Linked DNA regions of Homo sapiens: regions 1 and 2 are each linked to region 3. Evidence: fine-mapped expression QTL. A gene starts in region 3. Each other region holds a variant in brackets. All regions are shown on one strand. Distances are between the middles of the regions.

Region 1 (10,306 bases), 27 kb after region 3:
ATCCAGTCCTTTGGGAGGTTTGAAGCTTCTTTTAGCAAGAACTCCATCAATTAGAGTTCAAGGAGATAGTATGTCGTAGGGGTCAAAGGCAGGCAAGGAGAGCCTCTGGCGATGTCAAAGGTCATAGACTTAGGGTGCCCTCTAAGACTGGTAACAGATGAACAGCTTCACTTATGCACGCTCCTCTCCTGACTAGAAGGGTCCCAGCACCATGGAGGACCCGAACCCTGAAGAGAACATGAAGCAGCAGGATTCACCCAAGGAGAGAAGTCCCCAGAGCCCAGGAGGCAACATCTGTGAGTACACATGGCTGGCGGGCTAGAGGAGGGTGGGGTGCAGGAGCTGATGCTAAGATCTCTGTGGCACTTCGGTGTCCAAGGCGCCACAGAGTTTTGCCTGTTGAGAAGGGGCTGTAATGGTCCCTGAGCTGCTCTAGCAGGAAGTGCATCTCCTCACACCAGCTTATGTGGCCAGAGTACTCACCCTCCTCTGGCCACATAAGCAGGATTGCAATGCTTATGCATTCAGAGGGATAGGGTGGCTTCCAGGAGAGGCTTGGGTTGGAGATGTGGCTGGGAATGGTTCTATTGGGAGAGAAACCCCAAGATTCTGGTCCCAACTCTGCCCTAGACTTTCAGTGTAACTTGGGCCTTGGTTTCCTTGACTGTCAAAAGAGGGTGGTACTTCCCACCTCACAGGGTGGGTATGGGATTAACTGCAGCAAAGGGGAAAGCTAGGGGTTAATGATGGTAGCCAGTTTGACATGTAATAGCAACACCTCCTGCTCAGTGTTTTATTATGAGCTAGGTGTATTTATTCTCATATTATGAACCATTTTAACATTCATTATCTCATTGAGTCCTTCTAATAATAGGCCCTTTAAACTGGGAACTGAGGCAGAGAGAGGTATTTGTAACAAGAGCTGTAGTCTCAATGCCCTTGAGCCAGAGACTACCAGGAACACACCTGCAGTTGAACACGTTGGGTTTCTCACTGCAATGAACACAGACCATGGGGGGACTGTGGGGTGTCTCACTAAGAATGGTAAAAACGACACAGGATTTGGGCTTGTGGGTGGTGATTTTGGGGAAGGTTCAAGCAAAATTGTTTTGCTCTGGATTGGATGCTACCAGGAAGCAGGGGCAATTCTATGATTGGCTATCGTAATAAATCTTACCCAGAAGGAGGAAGGAAGGAGGCGAGGCTCAAGCTCTGACTGATAAAGCAGCAGCAGACATTCACATTAGCCAGGATAGGAGGATGTTTGGTCATTTTTCTGCTTGGACAGTATTCATATTTTGTCTGTGCTCAGACATTATGATGATGTAGTCTTGTCTTGATTCATTTTAGTCACAGCGTGGCCTTGTCTGTCCTTGATATTCTGTGAAAATTTATGTTCAACAGAACACCAAGGTCTAGCTGTGAGTACCAGGCCAGATCCTGGATGTCGGGCTGGATTTCTCTGTATCATTAGTCATAATTGCAAATGACTGTACAGCAATTCATTTATTCCTTCCAACGGTCCTATGGAGTAGATACTGTTATTAGCCCATTTTCCAGATAAGGAAACTGGTGTAATTGCCTAGGAAGTGGTGGAGGTGAGATTCAATCCCAAGCAGTCTGGCTCCAAAGGCTGTGCTGTAATCACCATACCCCTCTGTTGGGCAGGCTGACTCTCTGGGTTCCAACCCTGGCTCCACCATTTCCTTTCCTAGCCTCATGACTATGGGCAACTTGCCTAACCTCTTTGAATCTCAGTTTGCTCATCCATAAAATAGGTGCAAGAACAGTTCTCCTGTTTGGTTGTCCAGCATTAGCATAGAACCTAGCACATAACACATTCAATGTTAATTGTTGGTGTGATTCTGGGGTTCAGGAAGAGGTCTTGGAGACTCCTGCTGGCCTCCCCTGACCTCTCCCCCACATTCCTCAGGCCACCTGGGGGCCCCGAAGTGCACCCGCTGCCTCATCACCTTCGCAGATTCCAAGTTCCAGGAGCGTCACATGAAGCGGGAGCACCCAGCGGACTTCGTGGCCCAGAAGCTGCAGGGGGTCCTCTTCATCTGCTTCACCTGCGCCCGCTCCTTCCCCTCCTCCAAAGCCCTAATCACCCACCAGCGCAGCCACGGTCCAGCCGCCAAGCCCACCCTGCCGGTTGCAACCACTACTGCCCAGCCCACCTTCCCTTGTCCTGACTGTGGCAAGACCTTTGGGCAGGCTGTTTCTCTGAGGCGGCACCGCCAGATGCATGAGGTCCGTGCCCCTCCTGGCACCTTCGCCTGCACAGAGTGCGGTCAGGACTTTGCTCAGGAAGCAGGGCTGCATCAACACTACATTCGGCATGCCCGGGGGGAGCTCTGAGTGCAGCTTAAGCCTCTCCACGGTGACGGGTGGCTCTGTGGCTGGTAGGACTCACCCATGATATGGGGTGCAGGAACTCTGGGGGCCCTGAAGGATTTGCTTCCCTCCCCTGGGAAGGCAGAGGGCTCTTAATAAAGAGGACCCAGAAGATTCTTATTTAGAGCTTCAGTCTTTGGAGCACACAGGGCCTTCGTGAGACAGTGAAATCAGATAATAATGAGATCTTTTGTTAAAAAAAAAAAATGGGAAGGGAGTGCGGGAGAGAAATGGTTTGTGTCTCCCTTATTCCCAGTTAAATACCTAGCTGCAGATTGTGCCATCACCCTTCATTCTTCCCAGATGGATGCCATGGGCTATGGGAGCAAATTGCCCTGGACCTTTGCCTGAATGGGGGCAGGAAAGGTGAGGTGTTGCTGGCCTGTAATGCCACCAGGTGAGTTCCAGATGTGGAGCAACTTGGGCTTTTGGGGATGGGGCAGCAAAGTTGGGAGCTGGACCCCAATTGAGTGGGGGTAGCAATTGGAGTCCTTGTGTCTCTTTTCCACCCCCTGCCATCCTCACTTAGAGGGGCCATGGCACTAGATGGCACTAGTCCCCCGATAATTTATGTCTCGTTGAAATAATTTTGTATATCATTCTAGTCCTGAAATATTTTTTTCATATGTGTAGGTGAAATGGTATGAATAAGCTAACAGGAATAGTATCTAAAAACAGAAAACATCCATATTAAAATGTCTAAACAGGGAGCTCTGGCTTTTGAGTGGGAATTTCCAGAGAACATAAGGGTGTGGGCAGGTGGGGGAACTCAGGCCAGAGTTGGCCTCGCTTTGTGGGGAAACTGGTTTGGAATCAAACAGAGATACCTTCTGTTTCGGGTTTTATTTGGCCAACACTGGGAGATTTCCCATTAAGATCCTATTTTCAGCTCTCTTGAAAGGCCCAACCTAGGCTGACATTGTCAGCAGGGGCAGGACAGAAGTTACAACAGGCTGGAGGGAGCAGTGGGTGTCACCCTCAACTGGAGATGAGTCCCACCAGGCCAGTTTTACCCCCTTAGTTACCTGCCCTGCACCTGCAGACAATGGTCGATGCCTTGCATATAATACTTATAGACTCTGTTTATGTTGAGGGATGTTTTTAAAGCCCACAGGTGAGGTGGATGTGGTAGACTGATCACTGTCTCTGTTTTTAGCTAGGCACACAGTAGCTGAAAAGACTGCATTTCCCAGATTCCTTTGCAGCTAGATGTGGCCTTGTGACTGATTTCTGGCTAAATTCCTGGGTAGAACAGTCAAGCTTAAGAAAGGGACGGCTGGGCACAGTGGCTCACGCCTGTAATCCCAGCACTTTGTGAGGCTGAGGCCGGTGGATCACCTGAGGTCAGGAGTTTGAGACCAGCCTGGCCAACATGGTGAAACCCTGTCTCTACCAAAAATACAAAAATTAGCCGGGTGTGGTGGCATATGCCTGTAATCCCAGCTACTTGGGAGGCTGAGGCAGGAGAATTGCTTGAACCTGGGAGACAGGTTGCAGTGAGCCAAGATCGTGCCATTGCACTTCAGCCTGGGTGACAGAGTGAGACTGTTTAAAAAAAAAGAAAAGAAAGGGACATACCTTTTTTCCACCTTCCTAACTGTAATACGGAAATGGTATCCAGCCATCTCAGACCATAAGGATAAGAGCAACACGTGGGAAGACAGAGCAACAAGATAGGAGCCTGGGTCTCTCGTCAATTTCAAGGAGCACAGCCACCATACCAGCCCACTTCCATATTGCTATCTAAGAAAGAAACTTCTATCTTATTTAAGCCACCATTATTTTGGGTCTCTGTCACATGCAACAGAATTTACAGCCTAAGACAGGGGTCTGCAAACTATGGCCAACTCTAGCCTGCTGCCTGGTTTTGCAAATAAAATTTTATTTGAACAGTTTTATACTCATTCACTTATGTATCGTTGATGGCTGCTTTTGCCTAGAACAGCAGATCTGCATAGTTGCAACAGAGATTTTAAGGCCTACAGAACTTAAAATAGTTACCATCTAGCCCTTTACAGGAGAAGTTTGCCAACCCCTGGTCTAATAAGACATTCAACCTACTCTGAGTCTGGAAGCAGAAATTTCCATCCTGGGAACCACCATCTTTACCAGGTAGGTAGGTAGGTAGGGTATGTGTGTGTGTGTGTGTTTTGGGGCAGGGCTACCCTGGATCTCTTTGCTGGGGTGACTTATGGGGAGACTGGTTGGAGTTAGTAGACCATCAGTTTTTTTCAAGATACCAACTTCATGAAGAGCCAGATATTTCCTCTGGCTCCTGGTGAATGCTCCGAAGTTTCCAACCCAGATATTGTCACACTACCCCCACAGTGGCTCCCCTAAACCAAACCTAAGTATCTAATCCCACATGCTCTCCCAAGATAGCAGCCTGCCCAAGTACACCCTGGGCTTCCTGTTCTCTCCAGACATCACAGATTCTCTAAATAGCATCACTGATGACATCCACATCTTTATCTGCAGCCCAAACCCCAGACATAAGATATAACCACTTGAATAAACAAATGGAGATCTCAAACTTAAAATGGGTCAACAGGACTCCTGCGGCCCAACCTGCACCACCATTGCCATCATGTTAGTAAACTGTGCACTCTTAAATTCTTTTTTCTTTTTTGAGTCTCACTTTGTCTCCCAGGCTGGAGTGCAGTGGTGTGATCTCAGCTCACTGAAGCCTCCGCCTCCTGGATTCAGGCAATTTTCCAGCCCCAGCCTCCCGAGTAGCTGGGATTACAGGTGTGCACCACTATAACTGGCTAATTTTTTGTATTTTTAGTAGAGACGGGGTTTCATTATGTTGCTCAGGCTGATCTCAAAACTCCTGGCCTTCAGTGATCTGCCCGCCTGGGCCTCCCAAAGTGCTGGGATTATAGGTGTGAGCCACTGCACCTGGCCTTCATTTTTTTTTTTTTTTTTTTTTTCCCCTTCAGACAGGGTCTCGCTGTGTAGCCCAGGATAGAGTGCAGTGGTAAGATCTTGGCTCACTGCAGCCTTGATCTCCTCAGGCTCAGATGATCCTCCCACCTCCACCTCCCTCCCTGTAGCTGGGACTACAGGTGTGCACTACTATGAACAGCTAATTTTTTGTAGAGATGGAGTTTCACCATGTTGTTCAGGCTGGTCTTGAACTCCTCGGCTCAAACAATCCGCCCACCTCGATCTCCCAAAGTGCTAGGATTACAGGCGTGAGCCACCGTGCCTGGCTGACTTTCAGCCTTCTAACACCTGTGTAACTATTCCCTGTATTAAATCCTCTTTGGGGAATGCCTGGCCTGACTCCATATCCTGAATGGGTGCTGGCTGAATGACCCAACTCCTGATTGATAGTGCCTCTTGTGATCCTTAGGAATATTTGCCAATGGATGGAAATTCTCTATATTTGTCCTTAGAAGTCCTGTCTTATGGCAGAAGACAGGATGGGGTGCTGCTCCAGGAAACAAAACCTATGATCACACTTATCCATGTGCTATAGTTGAATGTATGTGTCCCCCTAATATTCATATGTTGGGAACCTAAGACCCCATGTGATAGTATTCAGACATGGGGCCTTTAGGAGATGGTTAAGTCACAGGGGCTCTGCCCTCATGAACAAGATAAGTGCCCTTAGAAAAGGACCCAAGGGAAGTAGCTAGGCCTTCTCCCCTTCCATCTCTCCTACCATCTGAGGACACAGCATTCATCCCTTTCTGCCACCTTCCACTGTGTAAGGATGCAGCAAGAAGGCACCAACTTGGAAGCAGAGAGCAACCCTTAATTAGACACCAAATCTGCTGGTTCCCTGACCTGGGACTTAACCACTCTCCAGAACTATGAGGAATTAACCTTTGCTCTTTATGAATTACCCAGTCTCAGGTATTTTGTTACAGCCGCACAAACGGACTAAGACTCTGTTGTTTTAATGAGCCTGGAATTTCTGCTGATGATTCTGAGGTTCCATGATGCTAAGCTATAGTGGCTAGGAAAGTCTCAGTTCAGAGTGTATCAATGTCAGGTTTGGAGATTCTGGGATGAGAAACGTGGGTTTTGAAAAATGCTTTGGTCTGAAATCCTGTAATAGGTGTCAAAAATGTAAATGCTGGCCAGGCACGGTGGCTCACGCCTGTAATCCCAGCACTCTGGGAGGCCAAGGCGGGCGGATCATTTGAGGTCAGGAGTTCGAGACCAGCCTGGCCAACATGGTGAAACTGCATCTCTACTAAAAATACAAAAATTAGCCGGGGGTGGTAGTACCGCGCCTGTGGTCCCAGCTACTCAGAAGGCTGAGGCATGAGAATCGCTTGAACCCAGAATGCAGAGGCTGCAGTGAGCTGAGATCATGTCCACTACACTCCAGCCTGGGCGACAGAGCGAGACTCCGTCT[C/CA]AAAAAAAAAAAAAAAAAAAAAAAAAGCAGATGCTCTTCAGGGCCAAGCAGGCAGGGTAGGGGTGTCCAGATGTGAGGCATTGGTGACTGGGCACATAAGAGTGAATGCCTCCCCTACAGAAAGTGACTCCTTCTCAGCACCAACAAACCACTATCCCCATGGGAACTGGGGGTTCAGCAATATAGATCTCACAATTTTCGAGACAGTCCAGAAACTTCAATTTTTTTAAATGTGAAATTACCCATTTTTCAACATTGGTAACCAACGTAACTTAAAAAAATTCAATAGCTCTGTGGAGACCAGATACACTCCTCTAAGTCAGATGGTGGCTGTGGGCACTAGACTGCCATTTCTGGTGTGTGGCTTAGTGGTTAAGAGTGGATGCACCTGCATCCAGTTGTCTGGGTACAAACCAGGGCTCTGCTGCTTACTGGCTTTGTGACCTCTGGCAGGTAACTCAACCTCCCTGTGCCTCTGTTGTAGCAGATTTTTTTTTTTTTTTGGAGACGGAGTCTTGCTCTATTGCCCAGGCTGGAGTGCAGTGGTGCAATCTGGGCTCACTGCAACCTCCGCCTCCCAGGTACGAGCGATTCTCCTGCCTCAGCCTCCCAAGTAGCTGGGACAACAGGCACGCACCACCACACTCAGCTAAGTTTTTGTATTTTTAGTAGAGATGGGGTTTCACCATGTTGGCCAGGCTGGTCTCAAACTCCCGACCTCAGGCAATCCACCTGCCTTGGCCTCCCAAGCTGCTGAGATTACAGGCATGAGCAACCATGCCTGGCCTGTTGTAGCAGTTATAAAATAGTCATAAAGGTAGCCTCTAAGGATTATTATGAGCACTCAGATTACTGTGAGGACTCAGACTTGGAGACAATGCCAAAGTCAGTATATGGCTCTTACGGCCTGGTTCTCCGCTACTTTCTGACCTCACCTCTTACCTGTCTTCCTCAGTTCCAGCCTCGTGGCCCTGTGTTCTCTTCCCAAGCACCCCAAGTGGGCTCCCACCTCGGGCCATTGCATTTACTGTCCCCACAGACAGCCACAAGGCTCACTCCTGCCCCTTCTCTAGGTCTCTGCTCTGATGTCATCTCAGTGAAGCCTTCCTTGACCACCCTACTTAAAACTGCAACCTTCACACACACAAGCTTCCCACCCTGTTCCTTTTTCTCCATAGCACTTATGACTAACATTCCATAAAATTTGTATTTTTTTTTTTTTTTTTTTTGAGACAGTCTCGCTCTGTCGCCCAGGCTGGAGTGCAGTGGCGCGATCTCAGCTCACTGCAAGCTCTGCCTCCCGGGTTCATGCCATTCTCTTGCCTCAGCCTCTCCGAGTAGCTGGGACTACAGGTGCCCGCCACCATGCCCAGCTAATTTTTTATATTTTTAGCAGAGACGGGGTTTCACCGTGGTCTCAATCTCCTGACCTCTTGATCCGCCCGCCTCGGCCTCCCAAAGTGCTGGGATTACAAGCATGAGCCACCGCGCCCAGCCACAATTTGTATATTTTACTTAAATACTTGATTACTGTCTTCCCCATTATAACCTCCACAAAGGGAGGGGGTTTTTGTTCATTGTGTTGACTGCTATATTTCCAACTCCCAGAGCAGTGCCTGCCATCTCATAGGTGCTCAATAAATCATTGTTGGGTGAATGAGTAAACAAGTAACAGTCCCTAACTTGTAAGGATCTGATGTGACTGTCCACATAAAGCACTGAGCCCAGGGCCTGGTCCACCGTGAGCGCTGACTTAATGATGGCCATTACAGTAATTCAGGTTCTATTCTTGAAGGTTCTTAGTCTCCAACCTTCTATGAGTTAACACATGTAAAGCGCCTTAGAACAGGGCTGGTTGCCCAGTAAATTCTCAGTAAATGATAGCTATTATTATAATTAGGCTTCTATTTTCAAAGTAGCTTCGGCGCCAAGCTTCTGTGAATTACGAATTAGTACTTCCCATCTCTGAGCCCAAGTTTTGGCAAGGCTGTAAAGAGCTGGTCCTTTGCTACCCTTTGACCTCATCCCTACAGCTCTCGCCTCCTTGGCACACCAGGCAGGCTCCTGCCTCCTCCAGCCTGAAGTGCTCTTCCCCATTGATGTACATGGCTCCCCCCGGCTTCAGATCTGTCACCTTCTCAGGGAGGACTATACTCTTTAAAATTGCAACCTCCTTCCAGAACAGTTCTCCCTTCAGTCCTTTTTTAAATTTTTTTCTTGCAACAAATTCCTGCCATCATCCAGGCTAGAGTGCAGTGAGCACAGTGGCACAATTACAGGCCACTCCAGCCTCAACCTCCAAGCCTCAAGTGATCCTGAATAGCTGGGACCATAGGCATGCACCACCAAGCCCAGCTAATTTAATTTTTTGTAGATGGGGTCTCACTGTGTTGCCCAGGCTGGCCTTCAACTCCTGGGCTCAAGAAATCTTCCCACCTCGGCCTCCCAAAGTGCTGGAATTATAGGTGTGAGCCACTGCACCTGGCCTTCCTTCAGTTTTTTTTTTGTGTGTGTGTGTGTGTGTGTGGTTTTTTTTTGAGACAGGGTCTCACTGTTGCCCAGGCTGGAGTGCAGCGACACTTCTTAGGCTCCAGCAATCCTCCCACCTAAGCCTCCCTAGTACTAGGACTATAGCCGTGTACCATCGTTAGCCCAGCTAATTTTTTGTATTTTGTAGAGATGGGGTTTTGGCATGCTGCCCAGGCTGGTCTCAAACTCCTGGGCTCAAGCGATCCACCCACCTCAGTGCTGGGATTTCAGGAGTGAGCCACCATGCCGGGCCTCCTTTCAGTGCTTTATTGTTCTCACAGCATTTATCAGCACCCGGCATATGCTGTATCTTACTTGTTTATGTCTGTCTTCACCAGCAGCCTCTACCCACTCCCATGTAAGCTCCATGAGGACAACGATTTTATTTTATTCACTGCTGTGTTCCCAATGCTTAGCACACAGCAGGTACTCAAAAATATTTGTTAAATGAATTAATGGATCACAATCCCTGTCTCACAGGGTTATTCTAAGAAGCTGATAATCTCATGCAAATTAAGTACAGCACTCTGTAAGTGCTGGGAAAATGGCAGCTGCAATTATCATTAAGGTTCTATTTTTGTAAGTTCCTAGATGCACCATTTCTATGAGTCAATATATATAAAGCCCTTGGACTGGCACCAGATACCCAGGAAGCGCTGAGAAAGCGTAGCTGTGATTATAATTAAAGTCCTCTTTGTGGAAGTTCCTAGGCTATGTGGCAGAAAGCCCTAGCTGTCCTCCATGAACTGTTTTCTGCTTTCTGGGCGCTTGGCTAGACTGCTTCTCCCAGGTTGTTTTTGCAGTTAGCTGCGGCCACATATCTAATTTCTCAGCAAAGGCGTGTCAATGGAAGCAGTGTGTGCCCCTGGCAGGCCAGGGCTTGTAAGACAACACGTGCACCTCACCAGGCATCCTGTCCTCTTCTGCCAGCAGGACCCAGGCTATGGCCACCCAGTCTGGACCATGGGGGAGACAACAGGCTTAAGGGATGGCCTGGGTCCCCAAATG
Region 2 (10,791 bases), 35 kb before region 3:
CCCCAGCGCCCGCACCGCTGCCCCGACTGTGACAAGGCCTTCTCGTACCCGTCCAAGCTGGCCACGCACCGCTTAGCACACGGAGGCGCCCGACCCCACCCATGCCCAGACTGCCCCAAGGCCTTCTCCTACCCCTCCAAGCTGGCAGCCCACCGCCTCACGCACAGCGGCGCCCGCCCGCACCCGTGCCCACACTGCCCGAAGTCCTTTGGCCACCGCTCCAAGCTGGCGGCTCACCTCTGGACCCACGCACCCACCCGCCCCTACCCGTGCCCCGACTGCCCCAAGTCCTTCTGCTACCCTTCCAAGCTGGCGGCCCACCGCCACACGCACCACGCCACCGACGCCCGCCCCTATCCTTGCCCGCATTGCCCCAAGGCTTTCTCATTTCCCTCCAAGCTGGCCGCCCATCGCCTATGTCACGACCCCCCAACCGCGCCCGGCAGCCAGGCGACTGCCTGGCACCGATGCTCCAGCTGCGGCCAGGCCTTTGGCCAGAGACGCTTACTGCTCCTTCATCAACGCAGCCACCACCAGGTGGAGCACAAGGGGGAGAGAGACTGAGCCCTCCCTTGGCTCACTGTCCCCTTCTGCCGCCAGCCCTAGCCAGTAAGAGGTGGGATTTCTAAGACCGACTGTATGAGCTCGCCTCTTCCAGATAGCTGGCAGAGGGCAGGGCAAGGGATTGGCCATTTATACTGGGCTCGAGCTCAGAAGCCCGAGGAACTCTTTGCTCCCCTGCTTTGGGGAGATCTCAAACCATGGACGTGGAGCTGTGGTTTGACAGCGCTGGCTCTGCTTCTCCCCACACACTTACATGGCAAAGGTAAAAAGTCTGCTACTATCGTGGGTTGATGAGGATTGTGGGCAAACAGGCTCTCTTGTTAAAAGTTTAAACTGGTGTCTCCACTTTGGCCATATGACGGTATCTAAGAAATTGAAAATACATACATGCTTGTCTCAACTCTTCCACTTGTAGGAATTTATTCTATAAACTCATGAATGTGAAAAAAAAGCATAGTGTTAAGGGTGTTCACTGCAGTGCGACTGTTGTGGCCAAAGACTGGAAGCAACTCAAGTGCCCAAGAACAGGGGACCGACTATTGAATTACAGCCATGGAATGGAATAGGTAGCCATAGGAAAAAAGGAAGCGCTATATGTACTGATGTGGAAAAATCTCCGATACACTAGGTGATAAGAGCAAGAACAAAGGGTATATACCACTGACCATTTAAAGACATTCAAAAGCCCAAGCTTCAGGCTGGGTGTGGTGGTTCACGCCTATAATGCCAGCACTTTGGTTAGCTTGAGGCCAGTTCAAGAGCAGTCTGGGCAACATAGCGAGACACCATCTCTACCAAAAAAAAAAAAAAAGCTGGCTGTGGTGGCATGTACCTTAGTCCCAGCTACTTGGGAGACTGAGGAAGGTGGATCACTTGAGCTGGCAGGTCAAGGCTGCCATGAGCTGTGATGGTGCCACTGCCTTCCAGTCTGGGTGACAGAGCGAGACCCCATCTCAAAAAGAAAAACAAAAAAAGCCCAAGATTCAGACCCATCCCTGACCCACTTCTTACAAGTTGCCAGGCCTTGGACAAGCTTTGTCACTCCTCTGGATTCAGATGCCTTTGTTGTAAAATGGGTGGGTTATAAGGCATTTGTAAGGGGCAAGCAACACCTCAGGCAAAGTCAGTTCCCCTTATGGAGCCTGTTTCTCTCATTATAAAATAAGGATGAACAAGCTAACATTGGAATGTTCTTCATTCCACAAATACTAAGCACCTCCTGTGTGCTGGTCCCTGCATGGGGTGTTGGGGACACAGCATTGAAGACAGACCTTGTCTAGTGAGGAAAGTGAACACTAATTTTAAAAAGCAGCAGCAGACCAGGCAGAGTGGCTCAGGCCTGTAATCCCAGCACTTTGGGAGGCTGAGGCAGGCGGATAACTTGAGGTCAGGAGTTCAAAACCAGCCTGGTCAGCATGGCGAAACTCCATCTCTACTAAAAATACAAAAACTAGCTGGACATGGTGGCATGCACCTGTAATCCCAGCTACTTGGGAGGCTGAGGTATGAGAATCGCTTGGACGCGGGAGACGAGGTTGCAGTGAGCCAAGGTTGCACCACTGCACTCCAGCCTGGGCGACAGAGAGCCTGCCTCAAAAAAAAAAAAAAAAGCAGCAGCAGCCAAGTCATTCATTCATCCATGTGTGTATGTATGTAGAGACAGGGTCTATGTTGCCCAGGCTAGTCTGAACTTCTGGACTCCCACTTTGGCCTCCCAAAGTGCTAGGATTACAGGCATGAGCCACCATGCCCGGCCCCAAGTCCATTTAGAAGAACAAGTAGGAGAGCCTTGGCTCCCCACCCCCTCAACCCAGATACAAGATTACAAAGCTGTGCAGTAATGAAATTGGTGGTGGTGGCTTGAAAACGGGCCAGTGGAAGACAATTGAGAGCTCAGAAACAGACCTGTGCTTATGCTGACATATGACAAACTGGACCTGTAGACCTGGGAGTGGCAACCTTTTTCTATAAAGGGCCAAAGAGTACAGATGTCCCCTGACTTAACAATGGTTTGATTTCAGGATTCTCCAACTTTATGATGGGTTCATCCGGATGTAGCATCATTGTAAGTCAAAGGGCATTGGGTTTTTTTTGTTTTGTTTTGTTTTGTTTTGTTTTTTAGACAGGGTCTTGCTCTGTTGTCCAGGCTGGAGTGCAGTGGCACAATCGCAGCTCATTGCCCTGAATTCCTGGGCGCAAGCGATCCTCCTACCTCAGCCTCCCAAGTAGCTGGGACTACAGGCAAGCACCACCACACCCGGCTTATTTATTTTTGAGATGGAGTCTTGCTTTGTTGTCCAGGCTGGAATGCAGTGGCATGATCGCCGCTCACTGCAACCTACCTCTGCCTCCTGGGCTCAAGCTTCTCCTACCTCAGCCTCCTGAGTAGCTGGGATTTCAGGTGTGCACCACCATGCCCAGCTAATTTTTGTATTTTTAGTAGAGATGGGGTTTCACCATGTTGACCAGGCTGGTCTAACTCCTGACCTCAAGTGGTCCACCTGCCTTGGCCTCCCAAAGTGCTGGAATTACAGACGTGAGTCACTGCGCCCAGCCCCCAGCTAAATTTTTTTTGTAAATTTTTTTGTAGAGATGGGGTCTCACTATGTTGCCCAGGCTGGTCTCAATCTCCTAGCCTCAAGTGATCTTCCTGTCTTGGCCTCCCAATGTCCTGGGATTCCAGGCGTGGGCCGCCAAGCCCAGCTGCATCTGTTATATGTTTAAGTTTTGCAGGCCATACAGTGTCTTCCACAACTATTCCACTCTGCCACTGTAGCAGGAAAGCAGCCACACACATTACAATACATAAATGAATGAGCATGGCTGTGTTCCAATAAACATTTACCAAAACACTAGGTAGGCTGGATTTTGCCTATGGGCTATAGTTTGTTGAGCCTTGACATGGATGAGTGGAGGATGGACAGACTAATCATAAATAAGGCTAAGAGACATGGGGAAAAATTAAGTTGAATCCCCTGGTATGTAGAAGAATGATCCCCCAAAGATATCCACATTTGAATCCCCAGAACCTGTATGTTAGCTTGCATGTAGCAAAAGGGACATTGCAGATGTGATTGAGATGGGTAAGTTATCCTGATTATTCAGATAGGCCCAATATAATCACAAAGGTCCTTATATGGGAAAGAAGGACGCAGAAGACAGAGAGAGGTGATCATGAAAGCAAACATTCGAGTGATGAAAGGCCCCAAGTCAAGGAATTTTGCCTACAAAGGGCAAGGAAATAAATTCCTCCTTAGAGCCTCCAGAAGGATTGCAGCCCTGCTGACACTTGATTTTAGCCCAATAAGGCTGATTTTGGACTACTGACCTCCAGAACTATAATAAAATTAACTTGTGTAGTTTAAAACCACTAAGCTTATGGCAATTTGTTACAGCAACAATGGGAAACTACTGCAGATCCCTACCTCACACCATATGCAAAAACAAGTTTCTGGGAGTTTAAGATCTAAATCTGAAGAGAAGAACTCAAAAATATTTACATGGAAATAAGAAGAATTATCTTAGTAACTCCAGAAGTAGAGACAGTATCCTTAAGAGACAAAAGAATGTAAATCATAGATGAAAACATGGGTAAATGTGACCATAAATGAATGTAAAGTTATGACTAGGATGGATGAGATATAGTATTTTAAGAGTGTGTACCTGGCATATCCTATTATACAGTGGAGGTTAGGAAAGGCCTTGTTGAGGATGTAATGTCTGAACTGAGATCTGAAAGTTGTGGTGGAAGGAGTGAGAGAGTAGAAAGTGTCCATAGATTGGATAAAGAAAATTTGGTACATATACACCACGGAATACTATGCAGCCATAAAATGGAATGAGATCACATCTTTTGCAGGGACATGGATGGAGCTGGAAGCCATTATCCTCAGCAAACTAACGCAGGAACAGAAAATCAAACACTGCATGTTCTCACTTATAAGTTGGAGCTGAATGATGAGAACACATGGACATGGCCGGGCATGGTGCCTCACGCCTGTAATCCCAGCACTTTGGGAGGTGGAGGCGGGCATATCACCTGAGGTCAGTTCAAAACCAGCCTGGCCAACGTGGCAAAACCCCCCTCTACTAAAAAACAAAAATTAGCTGGGCGTGGTGGCAAACGCCTGTAATCCCAGCTACTCGGGAGGCTGAGGCACAAGAATCCCTTGAACCCAGGAGGCAGAGGTTGCAGTGAGCCAAGATCATGCCACTGCACTCCAGCCTGGGCGACAGAGTGAGACTCTGCCTCAGAAAAAAAAAAAAGAACACATCAGGGGAACAACACACACTGGGGCCTGTCAGGGGGTGGGGGTGGGGGGCTAGGAAGAGCATCAGGAAGTATACCTAATGCACGCTGGGGTTAATACTCAGGTGATGGGATGATCTGTGCAGCAAACCACCATGGCATGTATTTACCTATGAAACAAAACTGCACATCCTGCACATGTACCCCCGAACTTAAAATAAAAGTAGGAGAAAAGAAAGTGTCCAGCCTAAGGGCTAGGACTGAGCAGGCTGCTGAACTGCACTCTACTCAGTAAGGCATTTCGGGGAAGGTTTTGGGAGGGGTAAGGGTTCTACTCTGTCCTCCCAACCCAGCAGTGCTGCTTGTATCCACGTTTATGCAGAGAACTGTCCGGAAGAATTTCTCCAAAGCAACCACACCAGCAGCAAAATTTCAAAGACACATACTCATGTGAGAGGGCGTTGATCTGGTCCAACCTTACTTTTACAGATTGGGGAAATGAGGCCAGGAAAGATGAGATTTATTGGCAACCAAACCACAGGGCAGTACCTGAGTCTAGGTGGATCCTAGGTCTCTTGATAGCCTGACACCCACCCAGCTGTTCCTTGAACACATAATGCTCGCTCCTGCCTCGGGGCCTTTGCACTTGCTTTTCCTCTACCTGGAAGGGCTCTCTCAGATACTCCTTACTTCTCCCAGGTCCCTGCAGAGGGGTAAGTCCTCCAAGAGGCCATCCCCAATCATCCTATCTATAAACTACCAGGACCCTGCCATTGCTCTGTCACTCACAATGCTCTATTTTCCTTGCTCTCACAGCATTTCCCACTGTCCAAGGTTGCATTGCACGTGCACCATCTCTCTCCCCCTGTACAATGTCAGGCCAATGAGATCGGGGACTACTGTTTTTTTCATACTGTCTTCCCAGTGTCCCCCACATGGTGGCTTTGGTAGGCAGAGTAATGGCCTCCCAAAGATGTTCACATCCCAGCTGGGCACAGTGGCTCA[C/T]GCCTGTAATCCAGCACTTTGAATGGCTGAGGCGAGTGGGTCACCTGAAGTCAGGAGTTCGAGACCTGCCTGGCCAACATGGCGAAACCCCGTCTCTACTAAAAATACAAAAATTAGCTGGGCATGATGGCAGGCGCCTGGAATCCCAGGTACTCGGGTGGCTAAGGCAGAGAATTGCTTGAACCTGGGAGGCAGAGGTTGCAGTGAGCCAAGAACACACCACTGCACTCCAGCCTGCGTGATAGAGCAAGACTCCGTCTCAAAAACAAAAAAACAGGGAGATTATCCCAAATGATCTAGGTAGGCTTAATGTAATCACAAAGATCTCTTGTTGCCCAGGCTGAAGTGCAATGGCATGATCTCAGCTCACTGCAACCTCCGCCGCCCGGGTTCAAGCGATTCTCCTGCCTCAGCCTCCCACGTAGCTGGGATTACAGGCATATGCCACCACATCCGGCTCATTTTGTATTTTTAGTAGAGATGGAGTTTCTCCATGTTGGTCAGGCTGGTCTCAAACTCCCAACCTCAGGTGATCCACCCCCCTCGGCCTCCCAAAGTGCTGGGATTACAGGCGTGAGCCCCTGCGCCTGGCCTACAATAACAAAGATCTTTACATGTGGAAGTATGGAACAGAAGAGTCAAGGTCAGGGTGATGGGATGTGAGAAGGACTCAACAGGCCATTGCAGGCCTGGAATATAGAAGGTGAATGGAATGTGGGTGGCTTCTAGAAGCTGGAAAAGACAAGAAAACAGATTCTCCCCTCAAGCCTCCAGAAGGAACGCAGCCCTGCCTACCTTGATTTTTAGCCCAAGGATACCCATTTTGGACTTCAGACCTCCAAACCTGTAAGATCATAAATTTCTATTATTTTAAGCCACTGAGCTTGTGATAATTTGTTATAGCAGTAGTACAAAACTAACATGGTGAGTTATCGGTGGGAGTGTGAATGAGCAAACGAATGAGTGAACATGAAGTCTAAAGCCACCCTTAGCTGGGCAGTGTGGCTCAACACCTGTAATCCCAGCACTTTAGGAGGCCAAGGCGGGAAGACTGCTTGAGGCCAGAAGTTCGAGGCCAGCCTGGGCAACATAGTGAGAGCCCATCTCTACAAAAAATAGAAAATTTATCAGGTGTGGTGGTACATGCCTATAGTCCCAGCTGCTCAGGAGGCTGAAGCAGGAGGATCGCTTGGGCCCAGGAGTTCGAGGCTGGAGTGAACAATGATTGCACCACTGCACTTCAGCCTGGGCAACAGAGCAAGACCCTGTCTCTAATAATAATAATAATAATAATAATAATAATAATAATAATAAACCACCCTCATCTTAAAGATGCAAAAACAAAGGTCCAGAAAGAGACAGGAGTGAGACTGGTAGCCCTTGGTTGATGAGGCAAAAGTTGGGAAAGGGCTTGGAATGTCCAATAAAAGGTTACCCAAAGGTCAGATCTCAAACCTACCTCTGACCCTGGCCTCTGTCCTGCTCAAACCCCCTCCCAACCTTCCCACCCTCAGATTAAAGTCCAGGCTTCTCAGCCTGGAGTTCGCAGACCTTCAGGCCAGCCCTGTCCAAAAGACCTTTCTAGACTGATGCAAATGTTCTCTGTACTGCCTAATACAATAGCCACTGAGCAATTGAAATGCATGGCCAGTGTGACTATGGAAGTGAAGTTTACATTTCATTTCATTTCATTTTAATTAATTTAAATAGCCACCTGTACCCAGTGGTGATCACACTGGACAGCAGAGCTGCAAGGACTGTGCCTGGCTTTCTAAATCTGCCCCCAAAGCCTCTTTGCCAAAGGCAGCAATGCTCTTCTGCCTGCCTCAGGCTGCTTCCCACCTCCTGGCCCATGCTATGGCCTCTGCCTAGAGCACCATCCCATCCTCTGCCCTGATTCCCTCACAATCACCTCAATTCCCACTTAAATGTGGTGGAGCCTTGAAGGGGGTGCAGGGTTTGGGTAGGTTGCTTAAAATGTCCCTTCCTCCCATTCTACCTCCTAAATTAGGTGATGTAAAACCACAGTGGTGACATTCATTATACAGCTACTTCTGAAAACCCTGGAGGAAAGGCACTATCCCTGGCCTGGGGACGCTGAGGCTTCAGGAGAGAGACAAGCCTCATGGGTACCCAGGCCTCCAGCCACAAAGGGACAGCCAAGATACAGGTGTGGCTCAGAGGGCCAGAAAAAGTTGAGGGGCAGTGCTGAGGGTCAGATTCCCAGTTCCCTGCCTCTTGCCAACACAGGGATAAGGGGCCAAGCAGAAGAGACAAAGAGTTCCTTCTCTACCAGATCTCTGACGGAGGTGCCCAGCATTCTTCCCCAGGTCCCAGGGAGCCTCTTAGAGTTTTGGGAGACTCTTGGATGAGAACCAACTCATCTTTATTAAATGCATCGTGTGTGTGTGTGTGTGTGTGTGTGTGTGTGTGTGTGTATAGCACATACTTCAGGCTTGCGGCACCACCCCATAGAGCTGGTGAGGAAGTAACTTCTGCTTCTCATTGCAACTGTAGATCCATCGGGGACGAACGAATGCCAGGGAGGGGTTGTCCATCAGGGCCTGCAGGGTGGGGTGGAGTCCATACGGGAATGTGTCATCGAGGGGAGGACGGAGGAGATGCAAAGGTGTGCCCGGGTCTCCCATTCTCTGCCTCTTTGGTACTCACCTCCTCAAAGCTGGGATCCCATTCCTGTGCTGTGATCACAAACTGAACCCGGTCACTCATATAGTCCTCGAGCTCCCTGGCGGGAGAGAAGAAAAGAGGTAGAAGGCACATCAGGGAATCAGCACTGACGTCCTACTCCCCAGCCACTCTCAATGGCTGTCCCCACACTGTCCCCACCTATGCGCCTCTAGGTTGCCTCTAGGCTCCATTCTTTCATGTATCCATCTTGCCACAGCCACAATGACCAGAGCTCCCACAGTGGCTAATCCTCAGGCTGTCCCTTTCAGAAGCAGGGGTAGGGGTAGGGATCCTCGCCATACAGAAGAGGAAACTGAGGCAAGCAATGCACCCTGGGCTGCCGGTGGTGGGCAAGCTAGCATTCGGATTCCATGACCTGTGCCCACCTGCTGGGCATGGCCCTTCTCCATCCTCCTGATGGTCTTCTTTCCCACACCCCCACCCCTCCCAGCAGGTCCCTGAGCGTTCCCTTGGATCCATCACCCCTTCCCCACCCCAGTCCCTGGAGACTCACCCATTGAAGGCTGTGACGTATCGGATGAGTTTCCGCCGCTCGTCCCCAGGGAACTCCCCGTAAAGAAAGAAGTGCTTGCCCTGGAAGAAATCTGCAGGAGAGAAGGGGGCTAAGGTAAGCATGAGGCCCCAGGAGTTCCCAGGCACCAAACAGGAGTGACGAGGCTGACCCAGCAGCTGAGGAGAGGGCTGTCCACATGTGGGCAGGGATTGATGGCAGGCAGTGGACCCTGCCCAGCGGCCCATCAGAGCCTCCTGGGGAGGTAGGTTGGTTGGTTGGTTGGTTTGCTTTAATGGTAGAAGATACAATGCCTATTATTGTGATTTGTTTCTGACCGACAGGCTGGAGCCACTTACCTCTCTCTCTCTCTTTTTTTTTTTTAAGACAAGGACTCACTCTGTCGCCCAGGCTGGAGTGCAGTGGCGTGATCTTGCCTCACTGCAACCTCTGCCTCCTGGGCTCAAGTGATTCTCCCATCTCAGCCTCCCCAGTAGCTGGGACTACAGGTGCATGCCACCAAGCCAGACTAATTTTTAAACTTTTTGTAGAGAGACGGGGTATTGACATGTTGCTCAGGCTGGTCTCAAACTCTTGGGCTCAAGCAATCCTCCCACCTCAGCCTCCTGAGTAGCCAGGACTACTGAGTAGCACACCACCACGCTCGGCTAATTTTTAAAATGTTTTGTAAAGGCGGGGGTCGGGGGGGGTCTCACTATGTTGCCCAGGCTGGTCTTGAACTCTTGGACTCAAGCAGTCCTCCCACCTCGGCCTCTCAAAGTACGGGGTGAGCCACCACGCCTGGCCTGCCTGGAGCCACTTAATGAGCTTAGTCCAGGCTGAAAACGTCAGTATCTGCCACTTCTTCACCTTTGCTCTCCTTTCCAACCAGTGCCTTTCTTGTTCTGACCTTTGGGGTGGCTCCTTCTTTCCATTTTAAGGTGACTCTCTAGGCCATCAATTTGCTGATGCCACTTTAGGGGCTTGGGAGAATCAAAGCATCTTCCTGCCCATCACCCACGAGGAACTGGGTGGAAACGGCTCTTCTGGAAGCCCCAGAACCACACCTCTGCACAGCCCGTGACTGTCTTTCCTCTGCTCCCTTCATTCTCGAAGAAGCTCTGCCTCCCTGCCCCTCATCCCACAACTCCCTGCAGAGTTTCCCCATTTCCTTTTGTTCTTATTCTTTTACACTGGAAATGCAAACACACAATGTGTGCAGACAGCATCCACGTCCAGAGTGATGGCTGATGTTAAAGCAGACACTGGTGTGCACCCACCCAGGGCCTGACAGAGAGCAGTGCCCCTGTCACCTGGTGTGCCCGGCTTCACCCCAGACCAACAGAACGGCACCTGAGCAAGTGAAGCACTAGCATGAGGGTGGGGCCCTCACCCCTGACGTGAAAAAAAGGAGGTCACACCTGGCACATGGCTGCGAGGGGAGTGGTCAGAACAAGAAATCTGGAGGGGAGAAAAAGGCAAGTCACAGAGAGGATGCTGAAAGGAAAGGAACAAGCCTGGCAGAACCTGAAGGTGCTGAGGCAGGGAGTGGGTTGAGGAAGGAGAGGGGAGGCAAGACACGGGGGCAGCAGTGACCCCAGGGCTGGCCAGGGCAAGTCCCAGCTGAGAACTGAGAAGAGAAAATGCCACTTCAGGAGGGATGGGGGGATTTCCCACCTGGGAGCTCAGGGACTGGCAGATCAGGAGGCTCCTGGTGTTCCTCACTGTCCGTGTTCTCATCCGTGGAGCCTGCATACGGGTCTTCCCCATTCTC
Region 3 (10,791 bases):
AGATAAGAAAAGTTTATACCACACGATTCCATTTTATATGCAATTCAAAATCAGGCAAAATGAATCTATGCTGTTAACAATCAGGACAGTGGTTACCCTTGCAGGGGTACTGACAGAAAGAACCTGAGGGAACTGCTGGGGGCTAGGCATGTTCTGTGCTGCATCTGGGTGTGGAGTACACAGGGCTGCAGTTTGCAAAGAGTCACTGAGCTGTACTCTTACTTACACCTTCACTTCACTCTATGTATGTTACACATCAAAAAACAGTAAAAACAAATTTAAGACACCACAGTGGCGAACTGAGTGATTAGAAAACCAATAACAATCAAAAATGACCATAGGCCCTATTGCTGATGAACATTTCTTCTAAAAATGACACACCTCCAGTGACACACCAGAGTTATATCTGGGTCTTGTCCAAGCCACCCCTCCAGCCCAGGAGTAGTTAGCAAAGAGGTTGGCATTTCCCTCTGGGAGCAGGTGATGAACAGACAACAGAGCCTGCTGTGGCTACTGCAAACAACCAGGTGTGTGGGGCTGTCATAAGCAGATGGCTAAGCCCCATGTGGTAAGATCGAGATTTTGCATAACAATAATTAGAGGAGAAAATGCAGGGTAGTAGAAGAACCCACAGATGTGGCCAGGTGCAGTGGCTCATGCCTGTAATGCCAGCACTTTGGGAGGCCAAGACAGGAGGACTGCTTGAGCTCAGGAGTCCGAGACCAGGCTGGGCAACATAGTGAGACCCCATCTCTACGAAAAATTTTTAAAATTAGCTGGGCCTGGCGGCACACGCCTGTAGTCCCAGCTATCTGGGAGGCTGAGGTGGGAGGATTGCCTGAGCCCAGGAGGTTGAGGCTACAGTGAGCCATGACTTTGCAACTGCACTCCAACCTGGGCAAGAGAGTGAGACCCTGTCTCAAAACATAACATAACAACCCAGAGATAAGCCTACTGCCTTGGTGGCCAGAAATGTCTGCCTTTATCAGTTACGTCAAAAGAATCAAAATTAGCATTTGATGAATCCAGAGTAACCCCACAAATTAGTCATTGCCAGATGCAATCAGTCATTCCAAAGGGTCTCTGACGTGGAGTAAGTTAACAAAACAACTGCTGCAATGCTGATCTCCCACTCCTGTGTGTGGCCCCTGCAGTTGATTGTCAACATGGAGCCAGCAGGATCCTGTGAAGGCCTAAGGCAGATCCTGTCCCTCCTCTGCTCGGAGCCCTCCGGTGGCTCCTATCTCACACCTGGAGTAAAAGCTCAAGTCCTTTCAATGGCTTTCCAGGCCTTAAGTGGTTTTTTAGGGGTTCCCAGTCCCACCCTGTTACCTCATCTCCTACCTCTCTCCCCCTGGCTGACTCCACCCCAGCCATACTGGCCTCCTTGCTGTCACAAGCCAGCTTCAGAGTCTTTTCCCTAGATACATACATAGCTCATGTTGCTCAAATGTCCCCTTTTCAGGGAGGCCTTCCCGGACCCTACTATTTAAATAAAAATCCTTGCCACTGCTCCAGCTCCAGCTGGGGCACTCTCATTCCCCTTCATTAAGTTCCTCCATAGCACTCATCATCCAACATATGTTTCACTGACTCATTTGTCAGTCTTTCCCTACTAACGTGAAAGCTCCACAAGACTGAATTTCTTTTGTTTTTAAGAGACAGCATCTCATTCTGTTGCCCAGGCTGGAGCGCAATGGTGCGATCATAGCTCACTACAGCCTTGATCTTCCAGGCTCAAGTGATCCTCCCGCCTCAGCCTCTGGAGTAGCTGGGACCACAGGCATAGGCCACCACGCTTGGCAGATTTTTGTATTTTTAGTAGAGATGAAGTTTCCCTGTGTTGCCCAAGCTGGTCTCGAACTGCCAGGCCTTGGCCTCCCAAAGTGCTGGGATTATAGGCGTGAGCTTACTGCACCCCACTGAGAGTGAATATTTTTTGTCTTCTGCTGTGTACTGCTGTATTAAAACAGTGCTTGGCCTACAGAAGGCACTTAATAAATACTTGACTAAATAAATGAGTGAATGAACAAATAAATCCATCATCTACTCCCGAGTCTATAGGTTCTTTCTCTGCACTGACAACTTCCCCACATTCTGTCTTCAGCTCCACATGTGATCCCCAACTGCCTCCTGGATGCCACCCCTAGAATGTCCCAAAGTCACATCAAACCTGGACATCCCAACTGAAACACATCACCTCCCCAAGCTGCTCCCTCTGGGGTTTACCATGTTGGTGACCGCTGCAATACTCCCTCAGTCTCTCCCAGGCCAGAGACAGGTTCTGTCTCTTCTGCCTCCAGTCACTCTGTTTCCACAGCAACTGGGGTAACAGAATGAAATGTGATTTCCCTGGAGTCACTTGATCATAAGAGAGCCCAGTGGAATCATCACCCACTAAGTAATAAAAACACAAATCCCTCCCTCTACACAAACACCTACATGTTGACAGAGCACTTGTGCAGACATTATGTCACCGAATTTTCACAACTCCGGGCTTGGATGTCATTATTCCCAATGGACACATGAGAAAACAGGTTAGAGAAATGAAACAATTTTCTTGAGGTCACCGATTAAGAGGAAGAGCTGGGGGCTTGAATCTAGATCTCAAGACTAAAACTGTCAGCAATCTGTATCTATCACAGTTTAAAAGACTGAGGTCAGGTGCAGTGGCTCATGCCTGTAATCCCAACATTTTGGGAGGCCAAGGTGGGTGGATCACTTAAATTAGCATTTGGTGCTCATTTGCCTTGAACTCCTGAGGTCAGGAGTTCAAGACCAGCCTAGCCAACATGGCAAAACTCGGTCTCTATTATAAATACAAAAATTAGCCAGGCATGTAAATTCCAACTACTCAGAAGGCTGAGGCATGAGAATCATTTGAACCTGGGAAGTGGAGGCCATTAGTTGACAGGCACTAAACACTGACATCAATTGGGGTGGACCAGATGATGTTACAGTAACAAAGGAGTCCCTAATCTCAGTGGTTTAAAACAACCAAGTTGTATTAACTTACACTGTAATAATGCTGTGTAACAAATCATCCTAAAACTGAGATCTTTTCTTTTTTTTTTTTTTTTTTTTTTTGAGATACAGTCTCACTCTGTCTCACAGGCCGGAGTGCAGTGAAACCATCACAGTTCACTGCAGCTTCAACCTTATGGGCTCAATCAATCCTCCCCGCTCAGCCTCCCTGGTAGCTGGGACTACAGGCATACGCCACCAAGCCCAGCTATTTTTTATAATTTTTCGTAGAGATAGGGTTTCCCCATGTTACCCAGGCTGGTCTCAAACTCCTGGGTTCAAGCGATTCACCCACCTCGACCTCCCAACATGAAAACTGAGACTTATACCAACAAGCATTCTTATAAGAATTTGTGGGATGGCTGCTTTGGCTGCAGTTTGGGAGGATTCAGGTCTCTTCCATGAGATTCCACAGTTTTCTGGGATTAGCAGTAACCTGGCAAATGTTCTCATGGCATATTATGGGAGCACAAAAGCCAAGTGCATTTAAGGCCCTTGCTGAAGTTAGATGTGCTGAAATTCCATTAAGTAAATCATATGGTCAAACTCATCAATGGAGCAGGGAAATATACTCCCCCTCCAGTGGGAGGGAGAGGAGTGGATATTTGCTGAATGACTGCCCATTCACAAAAGGTTAATTTTTCCGTCACCCTAGCACTATCCACAGAGTGTTCTGCTCCTTATAGTCATAAAGCAGCCCCCAGGCCAGGAACAATGGTTCATGCCTGTCATCCGAGCACTTTGGGAGGCTGAAGCAGGAGGAACGCTTGAGCCCAGGAGTTTGAGACCAGCCTGGCAACATGGTGGAAACCCCATCTCTAAAAAAATACAAAAAAAACTAGCCAGGCATGGTGGTGCACACCTGCAGTCCCAGCTACTCAGGAGGCTGAGGTGGGAGGATCGCTTGAGCCCAGGAGGTAGAGGCTGCAGTGAGCCAAGCCAAGATCATGCCACTGCACTACAGCCTGGGAACAGAGTGAGACTCTGTCTCAACAGATAAATAAAAGATTGACTGTCAGGCAAATTGTATAACTTCTTTGGGCCTCAGTTTCCTCATCTGTAAAAGTGGGGATAACAGAGCCTGCCTCTTGGGGTTTTTTATGAGGACTCAATGAGCTAATCCATGTGAGTGAGGTGTGTAGAGCAGCGACTGACAGGTAACGTTGAATAATGCCAGCTCTCATTATTATTATTTTATTTTTTATATTTTGGGGGTCTCACTCTGGTGCCCAGGCTGGAGTGCAGTGGCACAATCTCAGCTCACTGCAGCCTCCATCTCCTGGGCTCAAGCAATTCTCTCACCTCAGACTCGCCAGTAGCTGGGATTGCAGGTGCACACCACCATACTCAGCTAATCTATAAAATTTTGGTAGAGATGACATCTTACTGTATTGCCCAGGCTGGTCTCAAACTCCTGGGCTCATGCAATACTCCAGCTTCGGCCTCCCAAAGTGATGGGATTACAGGTGTGAACCACCATACCTGGCTATTATTCTTTAAAAAAAATTATTTATTTTAATAAAAATAGAGACAGGGTCTTGATATGTTGCCCAGGCTGGTCTGGAACTCCTGAGCTCAAGCAATCCTCCCATCTCAGGCTCTGAAAGTGCTGGGTTTACAGGCATGAGCCACGGCATCCGGCCAGTTTCCCCTTCTTTAAAGTGGAGTTGATTGGCTTAGACGACCTTCCTGGACACCTTCCAGCCCTGAGCCCACTGGCTGCAGGAGGCAGAGTACGTGGCAATGATTCATTTTGTTCCAGCTGAGGAAACTGGAACCCAGAAAGTAGATGCCACCTGCCCAGGACCACACACTGATTCCTGTGGTCATCCTGGACTTAATCCTTGGGTCTCCTTTCCTCTCTGCTGAGGGGCACAGGGATTATGCTGCCCATTTTCCGAGTAAGGAAGCTGAGGCCCAGCAAAGAAAGTGACTAAACCCACTGCCAGTTGGCTCAGGAGCAGAATCTGGAACCCCGGACTCCAGACTCCTAGTGAGGAGGAGGTGGGGTGGCAGGATCACCTGTAGGACCACAGAGATGGTCTTCTCGCCTGCCTTGGCTGCCCGCCATTTTCGGTAAGTGTCTGCCTTGAGAAGATTTTCTGCACAGTGAGTCTGGAAACAACAGTGGGAGAGGAGAATTAGGGCACAGAGATGACAGCTAGGCCTCCAGCTCTCAGATGATTCCTTTGAGTCCTCCCAAGGCCTCTACGACCCCCAGATTTAAGCTCTCCCGTTAATCCCCCGACACTCTGCCTGGAGTTTCCCCTACAACACTTTCCCGTGGAAGTTCACCTATGGGCTCTCCAAGAAAGCTTCCCTATTCCTCCTTTTCTCTCCGGAAGTTCCCTAGACGCCGGAACGTCCCTAATTCAACATCTCTCCACAATTCACTTTTAGCCTCCTGGAAATCCCCCCATGACTCTCCTTAGACTTCCAAGAGAACCCCAAAAGCTCTTTTAAGAGCTATCCTCATTAATTCCCTCACGTCTTCCAACCTCCCCCATGCAGGTCCCTCACCGAGTCCTGGCTGCTGCAGGACACGACATGGCGGAGGCGGATCTCCGGCATGTCAACGTCGTGGGCTTCGCCTGGCCAGAAGGATGAGGTAGAGTATGGGGTCCGAGGGGCAGGGAGAGTGGGAGGGGGCGGGGTGCGCCCTGCGCTGGCTAAAGTGCGCAAGCGCGCGAGGCTCGGGCCTTTCAAACCCCGGCGCGCCGGCGCCGGCGTCGACACTGCGCAAGCCCAGTCGCGCCTCTCCAGAGCGGGAAGAGCGCTGCGTTCCTTAGCAACGAGCGTTTCCTCCAGCCCCGCCTCCCTCCGCCACACACAACCCCGCTCTAGCCTCGCCTCCCAATGACGTCCGAACCCTGCTTTCTGGGAGCCTAGCAACAGAAGCGACCTCCGGGATTGGTGTCTGGAAGAAATTCGCCTTTCTCATTGCACGATGGAGTTACCGCCCACACTGAAGCCGAGAAAGCAAATCTTTTTGCTGTATTATTATTTATTTTATTTTTTAAAAATTTTTTGTTGAGACAGGGTCTTGCTCTCTCACCCAGGATGGAGTGCAGTGGCACGATCTCGGCTTTCTGCAACCCCTGTCTCCTGGGGCCAAGGGATCCTCCCACTTCAGCCTCCTAAGTAGCTGGGATTACACGCACGCGCCACCACATTCGGCTAATTTTTGTATTTTTTGTGGAGACATGGGGTGAGAGGGCGGCGGGTCTTGCCATGTTGCCCAGACTGGTCTCGAACTCCTCAGCTCAAGCGATCCACCTGCCTCGGCCTCTCAAAGTGCTGGAACTACAGGCGTGAGCGACTGCGCTGGGCTAGGACAGCAAATCTGAGTGAATTTTCGTAGTTTCGTAGGGAACCTGGATTCTACGCAACAGGATCTCTTCAAATGGCTCAGGCGGCTGCACTCTTCTCTCTGTCCCCTTGCCACACACACACACACGCACATATACATACATACGCGCGCGCGCACGCGCGAAAAAAATTAGCAGATCTCTTTCAGCCTTATGCCTGAGGCCAAAAGAGAAGGGTTCTGCGTCCTAAATATAACACAAAGCATGTGCCCAACCCCCACCACACACACACACACACACCCCTATCCTGGAGTTCTTCCACAAAAGCCTCAGTTTCCCAATATGTGGACTGTGGGCATCTGTCTTTTACTACGCCCGCCTATGACTGCCGACAGACATCCCTCTGTTCATTCGGTGCCTTGGAGACCCAAGGGTGCAGCCCTGGGTGGGGTCGCAGCTGGAGACAGCCCAAACACACAAGGAGTGTGAGCCGAGCACATGAAGAGAGGGGAAGGGAGACAAGGCACCCCGCACCCGCAGGACCAGCCTGGACATGCTGGGTGCTCCAAGGTGGGGCCCTACCCACACTGGGTGCTTCCTTGGGAGGAGAGGGGAAGAGAGAGAAGGAGAGGGAATCCCAGTTCTTGCAGCCACTGGGAATCAAGAGGCCCAACTCCGTCTTGGTCTTCAAGCAAACAAACAAACAACAATGGGCCGTGGGAAGGTGAGAAAACAGGGTGGTGACTTTCTGGGTTCTAATAGAAGAGGGGGATGGAAGCCCAGACTCCTGGGGTCTCCATGGAGGTGGGGGGCTGGGCACAAGATGCCCAGGTCACTTTTGGATTCTGGTTCTGCCTTCCCAACCCGGAGGCCACAGAGGACTGCCCTGGGTTCTGACCTCAGCTATTTCTCCCCGTAGGGTGAATGTGGGTCCAGACCCACCCCTCCTCAGCTTCCTATAAAAGCTGGGGACCAGGTACTGCTGATACACACACCATGAGGCTCTCCAGGAGACCAGAGACCTTTCTGCTGGCCTTTGTGTTGCTCTGCACCCTCCTGGGTCTTGGTAAGTGACAAGGGACCTGAACTGTCTCTGGGACCTCAGGAAGAGAGAGGTCCCAGATTGAGAGAGAGAGAGATATAGAGAGAGAAAGAGCCTTCAGCAAGTCCTCAAGGTGAACGGGGAGGCATTCTGGAAATTCAGATTCATGGAAGAGGCCAAGGGTAAAGGAAGAGAAAGCCTGGGGGTCCCAGAGAAGAAAAGCTCCTGTGATTGGATCCCTGAGAGAGGGGCTTGGTGGGCTCTGAATCCTCCATCCTCCAGGAAGGATCCCAAACACATCTCAATTCTAGGAAATCAGATGAGAGCATGGCTGGAAAGGGAAATCTTTAAAAATATAATTAAAAAAAAAAAAAGAGGGAGAAGGCCAGGTGCGGTGGCTCATGCCTGTAACCCCAGCACTTTAAGAGGCCGAGGCAGGTGGATCACTTGAGGTCAGGAGTTCAAGACCAGCCTGGCCAACATGGTGAAACCCCGTCTTTACTAAAAATACAAAAAAAGTTAGCTGAGCTTGGTGGTGGGCGCCTGTAATCCTAGCTACTTGGGAGGCTGAGGTGAGAGGATTGCTTGAAACTGGGAGGCAAAGGTTGCAGTGAGCCAAGATCGTGCCACTGCACTCCCCAGCCTGGGTGACAGAGCAAAACTCCATCTCAAAAAAAATACATTAATATCATATGATATATTTTTTTAAAAGAGGTAGAGAGATTTCCTTTCTCCTTAGACTAAGAAGTTCAGGCCCCAGCCCCCTCCTCCCCTGCACACAGGAGTCCAAGTAAGCCTCACTTTCCCCAGGACCCAGGTTTCTGGGCCCCTAGCTGTCCCCTCTCTCAGAACCAAGAAGTTCAAGTCCTCTGCCCTCCTGGTCCTCACTCTCCCTCCTTGACCTGGGATGCAGACCCTAGCCTCAGGGCCCCCTGCCTGAGCTCCTGCTGTCTACAAGACCTACATGGCACCTTCAAGGAGGAGAATCCCACATTCAAGAACCAGCTGGACCTGAAGTTTCACAAAAGTCCATGGAAACCTCCATCACGACCCCTCCCTGCCCCTGAGCTTTCTCAGCGGACCCTGGCATCCAAAATCCCCAGCCATGTAATTAGGCAAACAGGCTTCATGGTGGAGTCGCTTCCCGCCCCTGGAAGCAGCTTTGCTGGCATCACCACTGCTTCTTCGTCCAACTCTGGACAGTTCCTTGGGCAGTGGTCAACATCCCGCCCATGAAAAACCAGGGAGCTGCTGGTCCCTCCTCTCTCAGGACACAAAAGTCCTAAGTCAAAGTCGTGGTCCGAAGACCACACCACCCATGACTACAGCCTCGCCCTCTGTCTACACTGCAGGGTGCCCACTACACTGCGAAATATGTACGGCGGCGGGGAGCAGGTGCCATGGCCAAATGAAGACCTGCAGCAGTGACAAGGACACATGTGTGCTCCTGGTCGGGAAGGCTACTTCAAGTAAGAGGATGTGGCCTGGGACCTGGTGGGGAGGTGGGGTGTACCTTCAGGGTGGAAGAGACTACCATGCTGAGGGGGGATCATCATGGTTCTCAAGACGGGAGCGTGGGAAGAAATCAGTGGAGAGCAGGAAAGAGGGAAAGACCATCATGAGATGGAGGGAACAGAAATAAGTGGTGTGATAGAAATCATTATTGTCACAGAATTCTGAAAATGACACTGTCCTAAAGAGAAGGAAAATGTGGGAGGGGTGAGAGTTAATAGACTTTCTTAGGCAGAAGAGGGGTAAGGAAAGACACTGTGGGGGGCAGAGAAATAGTGAGAGGGGAAGAATCTAACTGGCAGGAGGTGGAAATGGTGGGGAGTGGATAGAGAAGGAAGAGGCTGGGCTGGGGTGGGAAAGTGTAAGTGTAATCAGGGAAGAGGTCATTCCTGACCGAGGGAGGAGAGATGATGGTGGAGTGTTGGAGTGGTGGAAGAGACAGAAAAGGGATCACCCCAAACAGGAGATGGATGATAACCTTGAAGTATGGAGCAAATCATTTTTTTTCTTTTTTGAGACAGAGTCTCGCTCTGTCACCCAGGATGGAGTGCAATGGCGCGATCTCTGCTCACTGCAACCTCCACTTCCCAGGTTCAAGCGATTCTCCTGCCTCAGCCTCCCGAGTAGCTGGAATTACAGGTGCGTGCCACCACACCTGGCTAATTTTTGTATTTTTTAGTAGAGACGGGGTTTCGCCATGTTGGCCAGGCTGGTCTCTAACTCCTGACCTCAAGTGATTCTCCCGCCTCGACCTCCCAAAGTGCTGGGATTACAGGCATGAGCTACCGTGCCTGGCTGAGCAAATCATCGTAAAGAGGAGAAGCAGAGACAGGGAGGGGGAGATGTGGATGAGTAAAATGAAAGGGAGGCCGGGCACGGTGGTTCACGCCTGTAATCCCAGCACTTTGGGAGGTTGAGGTGGGAGGATCGTTTGAGCCCAGGAGTTTGAGACCAGCCTGGACAACAAAAAGAGATCCATCTCTACAGAAAAAAAAAAAAAAAAATAGTTGCGCATGGTGGCACATGCCTGTAGTCCCAGCCACTTGGGAGGCTGAGGCAGGAGGATCACTTGAGCTTAGGAGATCGAGGCTGCAGCGAGCTAAGTGCACACCGCTGCACTCCAGCCTGGGCAACAGAGGGAAACCTGTCTCAGAAAATAAAATGGAAGAGAGAAGATGGGCATGAGTTAAATGAAAGAGACCACCCCAGACCTGAAAAATGATGGAGGAGAAAGGGAGCAATGGAAGAGACCAGTGGGGGACAGAGATGTTTATACAAAGCTGAAAGAGACTTTCAATCACAGGAGGAGAGATGATGAGGCCTGGTGAGGGAATAAAGGCGACTTTGGGTGCAGGGAGAAAACACTGGTCGGGAGAGGCTGTGAAAGGAAAGTGAGATCGAAAATCACCCAGCCAGCGTTGGTGGGTTAAGGAAGGACCTGAAAGGCTTGAAGAGAACCCCCATCCCGGCATAGAAGAGGAAACGCACCCTCGGGAAGGGAGGAGAGAGAGCTGGGGGACCCCTCGATGGAGTGAAGGGGGAACCTGTGAATTGGGTAGGAAGAGACCACCACATGGTGGGGAGGGGGAAGGCCGGGGAGACTGGAAGAACCCACCTTAAACAAGACCTGAAAATAGCCAAGAGGGGCAGCAAGAGACCCTCGTTGGGAGGTCTGAGGAGTGACCATGGCAGGATCTGAGAGAGGAGGATGCCTGTTGCTGGGACCGGGGTTCATTGGAAGAGACTACGGGGTGGGCGGGGGTTGGCGGGGAGTTGAGGAGGCTGGAAGAGACCATTTCACGAAGGCATGGGGGTGGCCATAGGCGGCCTGAAATAGAGTAATCCCGGAAGGACAGGGAGAGAGGGGTGGCCGTGGGTGGGGTGGGGTGGGGTGGAAGGGACCAC

Alleles and levels. Positions count from the first base shown, and alleles are read on the strand shown. Sizes are in standard deviations (SD) of each study's normalised expression. Not every link is listed here.
With allele CA in place of C in region 1, the expression in fibroblasts of the gene that starts at base 5,664 in region 3 is higher (large effect, 1.1 SD a copy in GENCORD).

Evidence for each region. PIP is the estimated chance that this variant, and not a neighbour inherited with it, causes the effect.
Region 1: its variant is fine-mapped to the expression of XRCC1 in fibroblasts (GENCORD, PIP 0.95).
Region 2: its variant is fine-mapped to the expression of XRCC1 in transverse colon (GTEx, PIP above 0.99).

The regions. Positions count from the first base shown.
Region 1 is chr19:43,596,898-43,607,203 of GRCh38, forward strand. ZNF576 (zinc finger protein 576) reads left to right here. Exons shown (of 3, transcript NM_001145347.2): 2 at 197-296; 3 at 1,934-4,260. The coding sequence starts at 212. The coding sequence ends at 2,361. Among named protein-coding and RNA genes, the nearest start is that of ZNF576, 5.5 kb to the left of the region's middle. The variant C/CA (reference allele first, on the strand shown) is at 6,770.
Region 2 is chr19:43,535,124-43,545,914 of GRCh38, forward strand. It overlaps ZNF575 (zinc finger protein 575), which reads left to right. Exons shown (of 4, transcript NM_174945.3): 4 at 1-964. The coding sequence ends at 564. XRCC1 (X-ray repair cross complementing 1) reads right to left here. Exons shown (of 17, transcript NM_006297.3): 14 at 10,695-10,791; 15 at 9,021-9,111; 16 at 8,489-8,564; 17 at 8,188-8,382. The coding sequence ends at 8,269. Among named protein-coding and RNA genes, the nearest start is that of ZNF575, 7.3 kb to the left of the region's middle. The variant C/T (reference allele first, on the strand shown) is at 5,819.
Region 3 is chr19:43,569,864-43,580,654 of GRCh38, forward strand. XRCC1 (X-ray repair cross complementing 1) reads right to left here and starts at 5,664. Exons shown (of 17, transcript NM_006297.3): 1 at 5,545-5,664; 2 at 5,047-5,139. The coding sequence starts at 5,595. PINLYP (phospholipase A2 inhibitor and LY6/PLAUR domain containing) reads left to right here and starts at 5,938. Exons shown (of 6, transcript NM_001193621.3): 1 at 5,938-7,056; 2 at 7,252-7,398; 3 at 8,727-8,843. The coding sequence starts at 7,329. RefSeq lists a silencer at 5,618-5,777 and enhancers at 5,878-6,037, 6,038-6,564, 6,565-7,090, 10,352-10,411.